Homo sapiens: one gene and its partners. The protein of the gene in region 2 purifies or fractionates together with the protein of the main gene of each other region. This does not show direct contact. Each region holds a gene or a part of one and is shown on either strand. Other genes may lie near its edges.

Region 1 (4,176 bases), on a different chromosome or scaffold from region 2:
CGGCGGAGGGGGATGCGCGCGGAGAGGACCAGCGCGCACCGCCCCGGCCCGCCCCTCAAATCCTCCTTCCTTCTCTCTCGCACTCGGAGACGGTCCCTGGGAGATCCGGGAGGGGGCGCAGCTCGCCGTCCTCGCCGGCAAGTGCCGTCGCAACCTCCCTCTGCCGCCACCCCCACCCCGAGAAGCGCACAAAGAGCGGCCGGGCAGGGAGCGCTCACCTCCCGTCGGGGCGGGGCCGCGGGCGGGGCCGGCGCGCGCTCCGCAGCGCCCGCCTTAAAGGGCCCGCCCGCTCCTCGCGCGCACTGCGCATGCTCGGCCGCGGGGCACGGAGGGGAGGGATGGGAACAGCGGGCGCGCACGCCCGCGCCGCCCGCTGGCGCTGTGGCCTGCGTCCCCGCGGTGGCGGCGCGGCGCTCGTGCGCGTGTCAGAACCCGCAGGGTCTCGGCCCGGGCGCCGGGCGTGTGCTGGACACTGGTGCCATGCATTCCAGAGGTCGCCAGCGGCCGGGCGGGCCGAGCTCGCGCGGCAGCCAGCTTTTAGCTTTCCCATCCTCAGTTTCAGGGCCAGTTGGGCGAAGTGCTGCCCAAGGAGACAGAAATGCAGGCGCGGGCGCGCGCGCGCGCGGTTGCCAGTGTGGGCGGGCGTGTGCTTTTGTGTCTCGTGCGCTCCCGCGCAGGTGGACAACCCGCGCCGGGAGTCACTCTGCCCGTGCGCCCCAAGACCTGGAGTCCCGTTTTCCGTGTCGGAGGGCTCGGGTCGCCCTTTTGGGCGGACTACAGACTCTTCTCACAGAGGAAGCTTTGGCTCCACGGATGGTTTATTTGGAGCCACTAACGGGACTTCCTGAGGACCGCTCTTTTAGAGCCCGGCTCCAGGCATCAGAGTTGGGCGCGTTTTCTTTTCTCAGTCAGGCGAGGGAGGAGACTTAGGGACAATGATTGTCCTCGGCTGATAGGTACATCCAAGTGTCCCGAGCCTGCCAGTCCCGCATTAGACAACAAAGAGAGGCGTTAGCGGCGGCGGGGGAGGGGCGCGGCCGGGAGGAGGACGGGGCGGGCTGCGGCGAGCGCGGGGGTGGGGGGTGGCGCTCTCTCTCCGCTCGCTCAACCCGCGGCCTCCTCCCGCCCCCGGCCTGGCGCGCGCCAATCGCCTCCCCCAGCGATAGTGTCAGTAGCATTGTGGTGTCAGCTCCCGCCTGTGACGTTGCGCCTCCCTCGTCCCCCTCCGGAGTCGTCTGGCTGCAGAGGCTCAGTCAAGAGGCGGGGAGGAGAGGAGGAAAAAGCGCTGAGTGAGGGCGGGCGGGCGGGCGGGAGGGAGGGAGTGGAGGAGCCGGGGAGGGGCTCCTTAAAGAAACGCTTCTGTCGCTCGCCTGCTCGCTTTTCGCTCGGCATTGCGGCCAGCCAGCCGGGCACTCGGGGGGCACGCGCGGCCACCGCTAGAGCTCTGCCCCCACCCCACCCGCCAGCAGGTCTGGGGTGGGGACCCAGGTGGGGGCTCCTGCAGCCACTGCCCGGTGCGGACCGCACGGAGCGACCCACTCCTCCCAGCACCGAGGAAGAAGCAACGGAGCCCTCAGCAGGCGACCGGCCTCCCCGCCCCTGACCACCCGCTTCCCGGCTGCCTTTGTGGCCGCAGCTTCTCGCCGCCGAGCCGAGGGCCGGCGGGGGCGCGGCGCGCACGGCCGAGCGATGCCCAGCTCGCTGTTCGCAGACCTGGAGCGCAACGGCAGCGGCGGCGGCGGCGGCGGCAGCAGCGGAGGGGGAGAGACCCTGGATGACCAAAGAGCCCTGCAGCTCGCGCTCGACCAGCTCTCCCTGCTGGGGCTGGACAGTGACGAGGGCGCCTCTCTGTACGACAGCGAGCCGCGCAAGAAGAGCGTGAACATGACCGAGTGCGTGCCAGTACCCAGTTCTGAGCATGTCGCCGAGATCGTGGGGCGGCAAGGTAGGTCGAGGAGGGATGGGGAGGTGGGTGGGGGTGGTGTAGGGTCTCAGGCCACTGCCTCGAGGGGAAGGCGTGTTCAGTATCGGGATCCGCGGCGTGGGGTGCCTTGGGGAGAGAGGAAGAGCCGCGCGATGGGCCGGCGCCCCAGACAAAGAAAGTGCAGGCAGGCTGTCTCCCGGAGCCGCGCCGCTGCCCTGGCGGGATGCACTTTCTTCTGCTAAAATCACTGCCTTCTCCCCTAACGCCCCCCAACCAGCCCACCTCCAGAAAGACAATTTAAATGTAAGATGCTTGGGGGAGGGGGCCTTTGATCAGTCCTTTGGGAGGAGGAAGGAGGAGGAGTGAGCATAGGATGGGAGGAGGATTCTGGATTTCTGCAAAGCGGAATGGAGCCCAGAGGAGGAACAATGGGTCCCGGGACTCACACCCCACCCCCTACCCCCAGTCGACCAGCGCTGAGGCATCGCGACTTCAGCTGCCTTCCCCGAGCCCCTTCCCCGTGTCTTCAGAGCTGACGGCGCGCCCAGCTGGATCCCAGCGGCATCTCCCCAGATGACTTTTCTGGGATTCTCGGGTTTGGTTCGGGACGACTGCAGTCACTGGGGGAGGGCCAGGCAGCCAATGGGCTGTTCCTCGAGCGCCTCGCGGGTGGGATCCGCTGCCCAGCCCGTGGCGCGGCCCGAGGTCAGTGAGGGAGACGCCCCCTTTCCGCCCATCTCTTGTCCTGCCGTCTCGCTGTCCTGGACGCGGGCTGTCCCCGGTCCCCGCGGTTACCCCAGGATAATGGGCGTGTCTGTCTCTCTCTCCCACTCCCTCCTCCGCACCCTGGTTCGTAGGTTGTAAAATCAAAGCGCTGCGGGCGAAGACCAATACTTACATCAAGACCCCAGTTCGCGGGGAGGAGCCTGTCTTTGTTGTGACGGGCAGGAAGGAGGATGTGGCCATGGCTCGGAGGGAGATCATCTCTGCTGCCGAGCACTTCTCCATGATCCGCGCCTCCCGGAATAAGAACACGGCACTCAACGGCGCGGTGCCTGGGCCGCCCAACCTGCCCGGGCAGACCACCATCCAAGTGCGGGTACCCTACCGCGTGGTGGGGCTCGTGGTGGGGCCCAAAGGCGCCACAATCAAGCGCATCCAGCAGCAGACGCACACGTACATCGTGACGCCCAGCCGGGATAAGGAGCCGGTGTTCGAGGTGACCGGCATGCCAGAGAACGTGGATCGCGCTCGAGAGGAGATTGAGGCGCACATTGCTCTGCGTACCGGCGGCATCATTGAGCTCACAGACGAGAACGACTTCCACGCCAACGGCACCGATGTGGGCTTCGATCTGCATCATGGGTCCGGCGGGTCCGGCCCAGGCAGCCTCTGGAGCAAGCCCACCCCCAGCATCACGCCCACCCCCGGCCGCAAGCCTTTCTCTAGCTACCGCAACGACAGCTCCAGCTCGCTTGGCAGTGCTTCCACAGACTCTTATTTCGGCGGCGGGACCAGCAGCAGCGCAGCGGCTACCCAGCGCCTGGCGGACTACAGCCCCCCTAGCCCCGCCCTGAGCTTTGCGCACAACGGAAACAATAACAATAACGGCAATGGGTACACCTACACAGCGGGGGGAGAAGCCTCAGTGCCATCCCCCGACGGCTGCCCCGAGCTGCAGCCCACTTTTGACCCGGCTCCCGCTCCCCCACCTGGGGCACCACTTATCTGGGCCCAGTTCGAGCGGTCCCCGGGAGGCGGACCTGCAGCTCCGGTATCTTCTTCCTGCTCTTCTTCTGCATCTTCGTCTGCTTCTTCCTCCTCCGTGGTCTTCCCCGGGGGTGGCGCCAGTGCGCCCTCCAACGCCAACCTGGGGCTATTGGTGCACCGCCGGCTGCACCCTGGCACCAGCTGCCCGCGCCTGTCTCCACCCTTGCACATGGCCCCGGGGGCGGGAGAGCACCACCTGGCTCGCCGGGTGCGCAGCGACCCGGGTGGAGGAGGCCTGGCCTACGCCGCTTATGCCAACGGGCTGGGGGCACAGCTGCCTGGCTTGCAGCCGTCGGACACGTCGGGCTCCTCCTCTTCGTCCAGCTCCTCCTCCAGCTCTTCATCCTCTTCCTCCGGGCTTCGGCGTAAAGGCAGCCGCGACTGCTCCGTGTGCTTCGAGAGCGAAGTGATTGCCGCGCTGGTGCCCTGTGGCCACAACCTCTTCTGCATGGAGTGCGCCAATCGCATCTGTGAGAAGAGCG
Region 2 (3,500 bases):
CTTTGAAGACCTATTTGATGCTCTCCTGGGGTCCCAGCCATACAGGAGCAGGCCTCACCGGCTGTCCTGTGGCCAGGGTGGTCTCTGCGGCCATTCCTGAAGAAGTTGGAAGCAAGGAGATGAAGGTGCTGGGTGTCTCTGTTCCTGTTCCTCCTGGGCAACAGCAGGAGGTCTCCATCCTCTCCCCCACCCCACCCCACCTCCATGCATAGCCCTAGAAACCGGGCACTGGACTCCTTCCACACATCTCAGAGTTATATTATTGTAACAAATCAGTCAAAATTCCATTTTACAGTTAAATAGTACAGAAGACAGTTTACTGTACAAGCAAGTTGTGCGTTAAAAACAAACACCAAGCAAACGATAGTGCAAAGCAGTTTCCACCCAGCTCCATCCTCTCGCCAGCTCTGGGATGGTTTTACATCAGATGAGTGCAGCAGGTGTCACACCTCAGCATGACAATATGTCACAAAAGATTGGTACCCACTACTGACAGGCTCACAGTAACACTATATCAAAACGTCTTCCTTTCCTCGTGCTTCCTACATCAGTGTGTTTGCCTAGTACAACTTTAACGCAGCCTTGTAAATAAGGACCTACTTTTACCAGCCCAGGCTGTCTGTACCCACTTTGGGCCTTACAGACTCAGTACGGCTGCCGTCACTTTTTGTCAGGGGATGGGGGATGGGGTAGGAAGAGCAATTTATTTACTATCCCTGCCTCTCCAGGATCAGGAAGGGTTAGTAATCTGGGATGAGACTACAAAGTGCTGGGCACTGGGAACCCAAAGGTGCCTCCCACGCTGACCTGGGACCAGCTATAACCAGAGAACAGGAGGGAAGAAACTACAAGGACAATGGATTCATAGCTGCTTCCTAAGAAGGCATGGAGAGGCCCCTTGGGTGCAGGGAGTCAGCAACTATTTTGAGGAGATGGAGACTGTTTTTCCAGTGAGGACAGGCCAAGAGAAACCGCAGCAGGAGGGAATGGAATAGGATCACCAGAAGGACTGCCTAACCTGCCAGTGTGTCTCTGGTGTATGGTTCTGGCCGTTGTGACAGGTTGGGTGGGGACAGTGCTCTCACAGAGACAACCAATGAAGAGCATTTTGTAGGGCAGATTTCTGCATCCACAGAGGCCGAGGCAGAAAGTTAAAATACCGCATGCTGCTAGCCTTTATGAGTTCCCTTACGCCTTTTCTAAGCCTTTCTAGGGCCAGAGAACTCTGATGTGAGAATCCATGCAGCCTGGCCCTTGGGCAAGCGCCCACTTTCCCATTTTGCAAAATTCAGGGGCAAGACTTCACCTCGGAACGCAGTGCAGCTGAGCTGCGGCTGGAGAGCCCTTTACAGTGCTTCTGTCCTGCCACGCACAGCCAGTACTCCCCACCTCTCACATCCTGCCCACCTCCGCCCAGCCTCCTGGACAGATGTCCTAGAGCCACAGAGGAGAGATGCCCAGCGTCTCATCAGCGTTTCCCTCGTCCTCCCAGGGGAGCCTGTGGTGCAGGCTGGTGGGATGCTGCCTGATGGGGAGTGTAGCCCCTTGAGAAAGTATTGAGACCCTAATAACCCCACACCCTCAGGAGGCAGCTGGGGGTCCGCGGGGGGGAGAGGGGGCGGGGATGTTGCTTATAATCACAGAGCTATCATAATCACGGAACTATACCTGTAAGAGACCTTGTGTTTGAAAACGTTAGATTAAGCTTCTTTTTCTAAAATCAGTTTTAAAAACTGTTTTGTTTTTTTTTTGTTTTTTTGTTTTTTTTTTTTTTTTGCTCAGGACTATTTGCTTTCAGAGCACAAAACAGGTTACAGACAGGTGTGTGCCAGGAGTCGCAAGATTTGGCTGGATCCTCCCAGGAGGCTTGGGGGATGGGGCACAGCTTGGCTGGACCCAGGGGGGACAGGGACATTGATGTCTGACCCAAAATGATCCCTCACCTCAATGCCTTCTGCTAGGACCTATCTATCTGGCCCTCCTGTTCTCTCCACAAATGGAATTATGAGACCACCTAGGGGAAAGGGGACCTCCTATCCCCCCTCCCCCGCCCTGCCAAGAGAACAGAGAGTGGATGCGTTGAGCTGGTAAAGTGCATGGAGGAGCCGGTCTGTAGGTGCTTTCCTGGGTTTAAGAACCTGATGCCATAGACTCATCTTCTCTGGGGCCTGGGACCCGTGCGGCTGGGGGAAAGCCAACAGTTAGGAACGGAGGGGAAGCTGGGCTGGGGGGACTGGCTTGGATGTGTTCTCAAACCATCTCTGCCAGCAGCGTGCTGGGTCCTGCCCCATCTGTACAATGAGGGGAACCCCGCTCGAGGGTGGTGGGGGTGGGGGACACTTTCCAGTTCTGACTCAAATCTGTGTAAATGCAGAGGGGGCTGGACCCAGGGGATGCAGGGGCTCCAACGAAGGTGCAGGGGTCGGGAGGTTTCCCAGGGCCTGAGGCTTATCCTGTGGGCCAATGCTGCCTCTCTCTGGAAGAGAGATGGCCTCTGTCCCAGGAGACATGGGTCCCATGCAGCACTGGGCATAGCTGGAGACAGTGAGGTCCTTCCGGGGGGGTGGCAGGAGGCTGATTCCCCACAGAAGTATGGGATGAGACGGCCAGGATCTGGGCCGGGGGCAGTATCCCGGGCCGGGGTGGGGGTGGTAACCTATGCCTCTGTACAAGGATGTGGCTGCACAGATGCAGCCAGAGGCTCCCACCAGCTGGGACCACCCTGGGACCGAGACCACCCTGGAGCGCAGGTCCCATTCCCGCCCGGAGCCTCGGAGCCGGCCCATCACTGGTCTTGAAGGTTGTTAGGGTCCCCGCCTCCAGCGGGAGGAGTCCACCAGGGCGGTCAGTAGGGCCGCCACACGGCCTCATCCATGCGGCCTGGCGTGCTCAGGGCCGTGGGTGAGTTGCTGTGGCTGCCGTCGGCCTCCACGCCATCACTCTGGCCGCCCAGGCTGGGGTTCATGAGGTTGCCGGCGGCGACAGAGGCAGCGCTGCTGGTGCAAGAGGCCAGCATGCGGGTAGGTGAGCGGTCGCCCCCACTGCTGCTGCCGGCCACCATGGAGAACTGGTAGGAGCCAGAGGATGTCCCGTAGTAGAGGTGGTAGGGGGACGGGTTGGCCTGGAAGGGCCCGCTCTGGTTCTGCGGGGCCCCCGGGTAGGGTGGCGGGAGGTAGGTATGGTGGAAGCGGCTGGTGGCCGGCATGCCCGCCACGCTGAGGCTGCTGATGCTCGTGCCCGAGGGCGTGGCGCTGTAGGGGAAGGCAGCTGACATGGCCCCGGGATAATGCATCCTGGGGTCTGGGAAGCGGCTCTCCGTGAGGGTTGGCAGCGTGGGGAAGGAGCGGTCAAACTGGCGGGGGTCGGAGAATGGGTTCAGTTCCGAGGTGCCTGGAGGACAGCAGGGAAGAGGTCAGTTCCAGCTCGAGACAACCCCAGGAGGGCTTCCTGAAGAATGACCTTGGGCTCTGGTTCCCAAGGCCCATCTGGGGGACCCCTAG
Region 3 (4,250 bases), on a different chromosome or scaffold from region 2:
CATGGTTCCACGGTGACCCCAGCCCCTATGCAAGTGGCACACCTGTTGGAAGTTTGGCACTGGTGGGTTATGTCAACCTAGTCCCAAATCTAAGGGTTTATTTACATCTTGTAGGGATCCAAAACGCATCTTTGTTAAGCATGGGCTCACACAGGGTGAGTTCTCTGGATGTAGTCACTACATCAGCGGGGGAATGCTGGGGGGCACACCCCCCATCTCACAGACTTGGAAGGAAGTGAACCACCTCATATACCAAGCCACCCCAGAGCAGAAAGTCGGATACAGAGACTACTCGAAAAACATACTCATTTTACAGATAAGGGCCCAAAGGGCAAGGAGCTCATTTCTAGAGCTAGCCATAGAATAGGCTTTCCAGCCTAGGCTTCTGGAAAGAAGCCTATATGTCTTCTCATTCCCACTGGCTTGGCATGCAGCAGCTCTCAGAACCACCCTCTTCACTCCTGGTCTGAAATAGCCTAGCACTTAACTCTCCTCCCTCTGGTGACCCCACTGTAGCCATGCGAGCCTCCAGCCTGCCAGCCCCACCTGCACTGGGCTTACATTCACACCCAACACTCACTTACCACAGTCCTCCAAACCTTCCACGTACCTTCACCCCAACTTGGACCAACTGAGGAGAGTGTGAAACACGAATAGGAATTTCTTTAAAAGCGCAGCTGTACTGCTCCAAAACACTCAGAATAGGCTCTTCACACTTTAGGTCATCTGTACCAATGGGCATGGTTTGTAAAGATCATGAAATCTTTTCAAAGCACTGGGACTTAAAAATATTTAATTCACGAATTAATTAAACTGGTCCCTTCTCAACATCACTGATTTGTAGCACCTTTGCCAACCCTTCCTGGTATGTCTGAGACCAAGCCAGTTTCCTAAGAACCCACTTTCCACACATGGTGTTCAGGGTCCTTCTTTGGCAACGGTACACTCACGCCCGTCAGGACACAGCCGACCGAACACAGCACGTTTCTCCTGCACAACCAGGGGACCTGAACAGATCAGCTTTCCTGCCCATTCCTCCAAGCGCCAAGGAGGCTCAGGGTTTCCTGGGCTAGTTAGAAAGTTAATTGCAAAGCTCTGAGCTCAGATCAGAGCAGCGAGGAGCAAGGGTGGTCTCGGCTCAAAAGTTCTCTAAGAAGACCCCACCCTGGCATCACCCAGCACCAGGACAGAGCCTGCACCTGCTTATGAGCAAGCTGGGAAGACAAAAGCCAAGAGGCAGAGGGCAGGGGGGTGCCCCAGGGCGGCCCCTCCTTCCTTCAGCAAAGTTCTCCTTTTGGTTCAGATCCCACCGGGTGTGTATGGGAGAAAAGACCAGCACAGGAGTCTCGTCTATTTTGTTCCAGGCAGAAGTCTCTTGCCGGTGCCTCACCTACCTGGTCAAGGAGGCTGCAAGCACAGGGCGGCACTGGCTGCGGGGTCCACTTACCAGCGGGGGCTGCGGCTGGGGGTGCTGCCCTGCTCCCGAGGGGGGTGGGTAATGCATGAGCAGATTGAAGGCGGAGTAGACGGTCTCTTTGTACATGCCGCTGGTGCACTCCGGGGCCTTCAGGCCTGGAAAAACCACAGCTGGGTCAGACACACCAGCCCTGGCAGCGGCTGGGACTGAAGGCTGTCTGCTCTTGAGAGAAAAAGAATTGCCAAGGGGTCCCCTGCAAGTTCCTGACTTGGGAAGGAACGGGCTGGGAGTATCGGCAGTGCCAAGTTTTAGGGGAAGGACCTGGAGGGCAGGCCTCCCCGAGGTGGCCCCTACTTGACCTCCCACCCCCCGCCCTCCAACCAAGAAACCTTGGCCAATTCTGTCTCCTGAAGGCGGCGGATTAGTCAGTCACCTGGGCAGGAGGGGAGGCGGGGATGGCGGGGGTCTGTTTACTCCTATAAAGGTCAGGGCACCGGAAGTGACTCGACCCGGCGGCGCCCGGGAAGCCCGCCCCCCACTCTCCACCCCTGGGTTCTGCCGCCTCCTGAGCTGCGGTGGGGGAGGCACCCGGCTCCCCGCGGTCCTTGGCGTCCCCGTCCCACCGAGGCCAGGGCCTGAGCGCGACGAAGGGAAGCCGGGCCGGGCAGAAACTCACCGTCCTCCAGGGGCTCTGGAAGTTTGTCCGGGAAGAGTCTCTGCGCAGCGTGTTCCCGCCCGAGAGCCTGGAGGGAGAACCGGAGGGGAGTGAGGGGCGGTGGGACCGCGGGGGTCGGGGCCGACGCCGGGGCAGGGACGCTCTGCGCGCTGGAGACCCCGAGGGCCGCGCGCAACTGGGGCGGCGCGGCGCGGCGACCGCGGGGGAGGAGCCGGCGCCGGCGGGGGCTCACCTCGGCCTCGCCGCGGGCCCCGGCGCCGGCCCCCGGGACCCCCGGGATCCCTGCGCCGCCGGCCGCGCCCTCGGACTCGTTCACGAGCGACGACTTGAGCTCGGCCAGGTCGCGCTCGGGACCGGCGGCGCTGTCGCGGCTCTTGTCGTCCTGCTCCTCGCCTTCATCCTGGAAGGCCAGCAGCTCGTCCGGCGCGCCGAGGTCGTCGCCGCCGCCCGCGCCGCCCCCGCCGGAGTCCAGCTGCGGCATGGTGCGCTCCGCCCGCCGGGGCGCGGGGCGCTGGGCGCCGGGAGTGCGGGGCGCGGAGCCGGCCCGGGGGGCGGCGAGCCCGGAGTCCGAACCTCCGAGCTCGGATCGCGGCGGGCGGAGCGCGGGCTGACTCCGCCTGGGCGGGCTGCAGGCGCGGGCTAGGGCGCGGGGCAGAGCGGCTCCGCGAGCTGGCGGGTCGGAACATCAAAGGCGCCGCCGGCCGAGTGCCGGGGGCGGGGCGGGCACTGGGGGCGGGCCGGGCCGGGGGCGGGACACAGGTCCGCCCCGCCTCTCCTCTCCCGGGAGAGGCCGGGACGCGCCCACTCGGCATAGCCTTAAAGGGCTCGCTCTTCCGGAGCGCACCCTGAGAGAGACGTCGGACAAGCCTGGGAATGATCACCCTTCTCCCGAAACGCAGAGACTCTAACGGGAACTCCTGACCCCGCTTACTCACCTACAACCAGATATTCCCCCTGCTTTCTGCGCCCAGGTTTCTCCTCCGGCTGTGGAGGGCGGGGGTCCCCTAGGCCCTTGGGACTTGGGCGTGGCTTACCATCGCAGCCGTGGTGTGAACTGTATCGTGCCCAGGCTCCAATGCGCCCTGTGCTTTGAACTGGGGGCTTCCTAGGGCTTGAGGCTGCTTGAGGCTGTGCTCGTACCCCAGGGAACCGGCAGCGTTGGAACTCCGCGGCGCTGTTGCGGCTCTTGCCCCATCCTCCATCCCTGTGCCAATCAGGGACTTCCTTCTAGGCCGCCTGCATACAGTGCGAACATAAGTATACCCCCCTTCGCACATTTATTGAGCTCCTGTTGCGTGCAGAGCTTATACATCACACATCTGTGACGGGCCCCTCAGTCAGGCGACGGCTCCGAGCCGCGAACACAGCCAAGAGCACCGGACCTCAGCCGATCCTCCAAGTCCCAGCCCCTATGACTCTCCCAACTCGGTTCCGTGACTAGAACCTGCAGCCCGGAGACTCGGAACTTTGGGCAGCCACGTGGGCGCGGGATTCCGACATGGGTCGCTCGTCCACAGCAACTCAACCCTAGAAGTCGCATTTAGGGAGCCCATGACTCTGAAGTTGACCCTGGCCTGACTAACCCTCTAACCCTCGCTCGATCCAGGCTGAAACATCTAGATTTGCGGAGCGCGGGAAAGTGCCTGGATTCCAGCGCATCTGTATGGCACCCGGGTCTGCGTCCACGCGGGCCTCCACGGCGCGCTTGGCCTGGCTCAGCCCCTGCATCTACAAAAGACGCCGGTCCTTTGGATCGCGATGCAGTCAACAGCAGCTCCCCTAGCAGGTTTCTGTGCTGGGTTCACTGTAGACGCTCACGCCTCTTCTGAGAGCAGTTGGGATAGAGGGTATTTGGGGGAGGGCCGGGTATTGGACGCCTCTCCCTCTGAGGGCCCCACAGGACCCCTGGCAGCGGTGCAAAGCCGGGCCGGAAGACAGCCGTGCCTCCCTCCGGGTCCAGGCCCAGCGTGGCTGGCTGTGGATCAAAGAGCTAGGCCATGCTTCCCTGTGTTCAGATCCTATCTGTGCCCGCCCAGCCGGGTGTCTCGGACACCAGCCCCCACACCCCCCTCCCCCGCCACCTCCGGGCTAGGGTGCCCACTTTTCCTCCTTTCCCCAGGCTGGGGCTGGGGGGTGGCATGGGCACGAGTGCTCAGC
Region 4 (3,500 bases), on a different chromosome or scaffold from region 2:
AATTGTTGAAGACTTTTGAGTACAGTTTTATCACTTTAAGTGGAGTTTTATTCTCCAAAATTAATAAAGTTTAAAACCATGACATGTAAGTACTGTGTGGTTTCAAAGATGTTCGTTTAGACACAGTGTGGATGTATGTTTCTTCTACTTTCTAGCAGAATCTTGTTTAGTTTACAATTTTAGCAGCTATTCATTGGCTGTAGATAATTTTAAAAATCAGGTAACATTCATGCAAGTGTTTGTATTGGCCACTCCCAAACTTGTCTATTGATACGGAAAAGACTTCAGACCTCCTTTCCCACATCTCAGGATACCTTCTCAGCTATTCTTTTGGAAAGCAGAGTTCAAGGCATGACAACATCTCTGAAACCCTGCTGTGCTATTCAGGATGACTTCCTGGTCTCAAGTTATTTACAGCCTAATGAACAACTGATAACCACACTGATGCTATATAAACATACAACTGTAAAAGTTTCTAGTGAACTGGTCCAGATTTTCTTCAGAGATAATTGATGTGCCCAATTTCAGTCCTGGTATTTACTAAGGCTCTGGAATACCTTTGTTTTCTTGCATAATCTAAGAATGAAAGAGGAGGACACTGAGTTTGATATATAAGAAAGTCAGGCAAGAATTTTTGACTTATAAATTAGGGTTTTAAAAAATACATTTACTCTATTAGGATTTTAAATAATTCATGAGAATAGAGTATTTGAGAAAGAGTTTTGAGCACCCATTCAATTCAAAGCATTTTAAGCAGTTCTTACTCAAGTACACTGAAGAGCTTATTGGTCAAGTCCCTTTACTAGAGGCTTTCTTACCATCTTATATTTCTTTCCTCAGCTATTCTAGTTGCTTTTTATTTGGATATCTGATAATTTGATTAACATCCATCATCCCACTAAATCTCCATGAAGATTGTCTTTTTTTTTCTTCACCATTCAATCTCTAGAGCTTAACACAGCCTGATGTACATTGTAGGTGCTCAATAAATATTAATGGGCAAGGAGAGCAAGTGATGATCAGATAAATCAGATTGCTAAAAATAGGTCCCAACTTTCAGTGGAGGTTTGCTGTGTAATTAACTATTATTTCATGGCCTTAGATGGTAAACATAAATATTCGTTGCTTGGTTTAAAGTGCTTGTGTTCTAGGCTTTATCTGTGATACCACATTTTTGTTTACTTTTTTTTCTCTAATCATGGGTTTATAACCTTTATGTGATAATCTAAAGATTGTGCCTTGTCTAAACTGGATTGATGAGCAAAGCTGGTTATTTTTCCAGTTACTTACAGAATAAATTGGTGCAATATAAAAATATTCTGCCTTAATCCTAGCCAGACATTCATTTGTTGCGTTTGCAATTGTACATCTAAAATTTTTCTTTATGTATTATAGGAATTGCTCTACAGTCAATAACAGGCAGTCAGCGTAAGTATATTTAGAAATAAAATGTGTAAATGACTTTTTAACAAGGGATACCTATGAAATTTTTATTTGTTCAGATAAACTAAATGATAAACTATAATTGTGAAGAACTTGGGCCAGGCGCAGTGGCTCACGCCTATAATCCCTGTACTTTGGGAGGCTGAGGCAGGTGGATCACAAGGTCAGGAGATCGAGACCATCTTGGCCAACATGGTGAAACCCCGTCTCTACTAAAAATACAAAAATTAGCCAGGTGTGGTGGCGGGTGCCTGTAGTCCCAGCTACTCAAGAGGCTGAGGCAGGAAAATTGCTTGAACATGGAAGGCAGAGGTTGCAGTGAGCCAAGATCACGCCACTGCATTCCAGCCTGGGCGACAGAGCGAGATTCAGTCTCAAAAAAAAAGAACTTGGAAAATGATGTGATCAAATCACCACTGGTCTGGCTGAATCGAGAATGAGCTTTATTCTGCCTTTGGCTTAGTGCATGTGCTTCAGGGTTTTCCCAAGGATGATGTTCTAACGTTTTACTCACAAAAACTTCAGCAGGCAAAAATACCTTCCTGCTTTCTCTGTTTGGTGTTTAGCGTGTATAACTTTATTTAGTCTGTCTATTGTTTATAGCTATATACTTTTTTTGCCAGGTGATAAGTTGTAATTGTTTAATTTCCATTTTTGTGCTATTTTTTTTAAGTGTAATTAATATTATTCAATTAAAATTATACTTAAAAAAAACACCACCACAGATTTGTTTGGGATAAAATGCTGGACTCTCTGGAGACCAGTCAGACAAAGTCCACAAGTTTTGAGACTGAGTCTCTGGGGCAATATCAAGGAGCAAAGTCTCAAAGAAAAGGTCACATAATAGGGGGCTCACACCCCTCTTATGAAAAAGAAAACAGAAAAAATAGATCTTTTGTCTTCTTTTTCTTTATATTTCAGATATATGTGCTAAAATAATACTAGTTGCATTATTAATAGGATCAAGGTCAGGACATGCAAAAAGTTAGTATTTAGAGTCTACTTATGTTCTAGAGTATCTAATATCTAGAGTCTACCTAAGATTCCAGTAGGTAACATAGCACTCAGGTTCACACTGATTAGTTCCAGGCTGGTGTTTGTACATATTATTTGGTAACTGATAAATGAACATCACATTTTCATCGAGTAATTGAAAAGAGTAAGATATATTTTATTTCTGTTTTGTGAATGTTGCTTTTTTGGGCAAACATTATAACATTGATAAGAAGCTGAAATTGCTTTCATCTAGATTTTGAGAATTTTGTCTTTTATGTTTAGGTATTGAAATAGAAGAGTTACAGAATGAGGAAGAAGAACTAAGTCCACCTCTCATGGAGTACAATATAAATGTGAAATCACACCCTGAGATACAGTTTGCAGAAATTAATAAAGATGGGACCTCAATACCCAGTGAATCTTCAACAGAATCTCTTAAAGATCTCCAGGAAGTATAAGCTCTCATTAATATTTGAGTTAGAAGAACTTATTCTGGGCCTTTAATTTGTTGCATGTGCTGTACTTAAAGCATCCCAGATAATTTTAGCTTATATTTTCATAGTGTTTATACAGAGCTTGAATTGGAATGGTCCTTTCCTTCCTTGCCTCAGTACTTCCTTCCATAATCTTTCCTGCCATAACCATTTATTTTGCCACCATTTCTTAAACACTTATGTGGCAGGCATTATGCTAGACTGTAATATGTTTTTTTAATCCCAGTTGAAGTGGATGTGGGAAGGTATTAGAAAGTAGAAGAAAGTATAGTCTAAAATAGAGAGGAAAGAAAGGAAGAGAAAAGTGGGATATTTCAAAACCATTTGCGCAGAGGTAGAATGAAATTCGTCCAGAATGGAATCTCCGTATTTCTTTACAAATAAGTGGTAACAGTTATTATATAGTCACTAAATTATCCTTAGATCTTTCATCTTATAGGCATGAATATGTTGCTTTTTAAAAAGTGTCTTCCTCCTTTGTTACATCCATGTGTGTAAGTGAGCATCTGTGAACTTTTATCAGTAACCTACTTATTGACATTATGTGTTGTTCCTTTATTCATCAGT

Evidence for each region. The genes of interacting proteins can lie anywhere in the genome.
Region 1: the proteins of RUNX3 (region 2) and MEX3B purify together in Homo sapiens (affinity purification with western blotting, with the first as the bait; one study listed by BioGRID). This does not show direct contact.
Region 3: the proteins of RUNX3 (region 2) and TCF7 purify together in Homo sapiens (co-immunoprecipitation; one study listed by IntAct). This does not show direct contact.
Region 4: the proteins of RUNX3 (region 2) and DZIP3 purify together in Homo sapiens (affinity purification with western blotting, with the first as the bait; one study listed by BioGRID). This does not show direct contact.

What each region holds. Positions count from the first base shown.
Region 1 is NC_000015.10:82,043,219-82,047,394, reverse strand, and holds the start of MEX3B (RNA-binding protein MEX3B), read left to right. Parts: upstream 1-1,376; 5' UTR 1,377-1,689; coding exon 1,690-1,945; intron 1,946-2,781; coding exon 2,782-4,176.
Region 2 is NC_000001.11:24,899,277-24,902,776, forward strand, and holds the end of RUNX3 (runt-related transcription factor 3), read right to left. Parts: intron 3,391-3,500; coding exon 2,846-3,390; 3' UTR 235-2,845; downstream 1-234. UniProt on the Homo sapiens protein: Forms the heterodimeric complex core-binding factor (CBF) with CBFB.
Region 3 is NC_000005.10:134,113,231-134,117,480, reverse strand, and holds the start of TCF7 (transcription factor 7), read right to left. Parts: upstream 2,801-4,250; 5' UTR 2,575-2,800; coding exon 2,326-2,574; intron 2,161-2,325; coding exon 2,094-2,160; intron 1,869-2,093; exon of another isoform or gene 1,573-1,868; coding exon 1,448-1,572; coding exon of another isoform or gene 1,395-1,447; intron 1-1,394. UniProt on the Homo sapiens protein: Transcriptional activator involved in T-cell lymphocyte differentiation. Necessary for the survival of CD4(+) CD8(+) immature thymocytes. Isoforms lacking the N-terminal CTNNB1 binding domain cannot fulfill this role.
Region 4 is NC_000003.12:108,645,222-108,648,721, forward strand, and holds part of DZIP3 (E3 ubiquitin-protein ligase DZIP3), read left to right. Parts: intron 1-1,395; coding exon 1,396-1,428; intron 1,429-2,721; coding exon 2,722-2,891; coding exon of another isoform or gene 2,892-2,897; exon of another isoform or gene 2,898-3,500. UniProt on the Homo sapiens protein: E3 Ubiquitin ligase proteins mediate ubiquitination and subsequent proteasomal degradation of target proteins.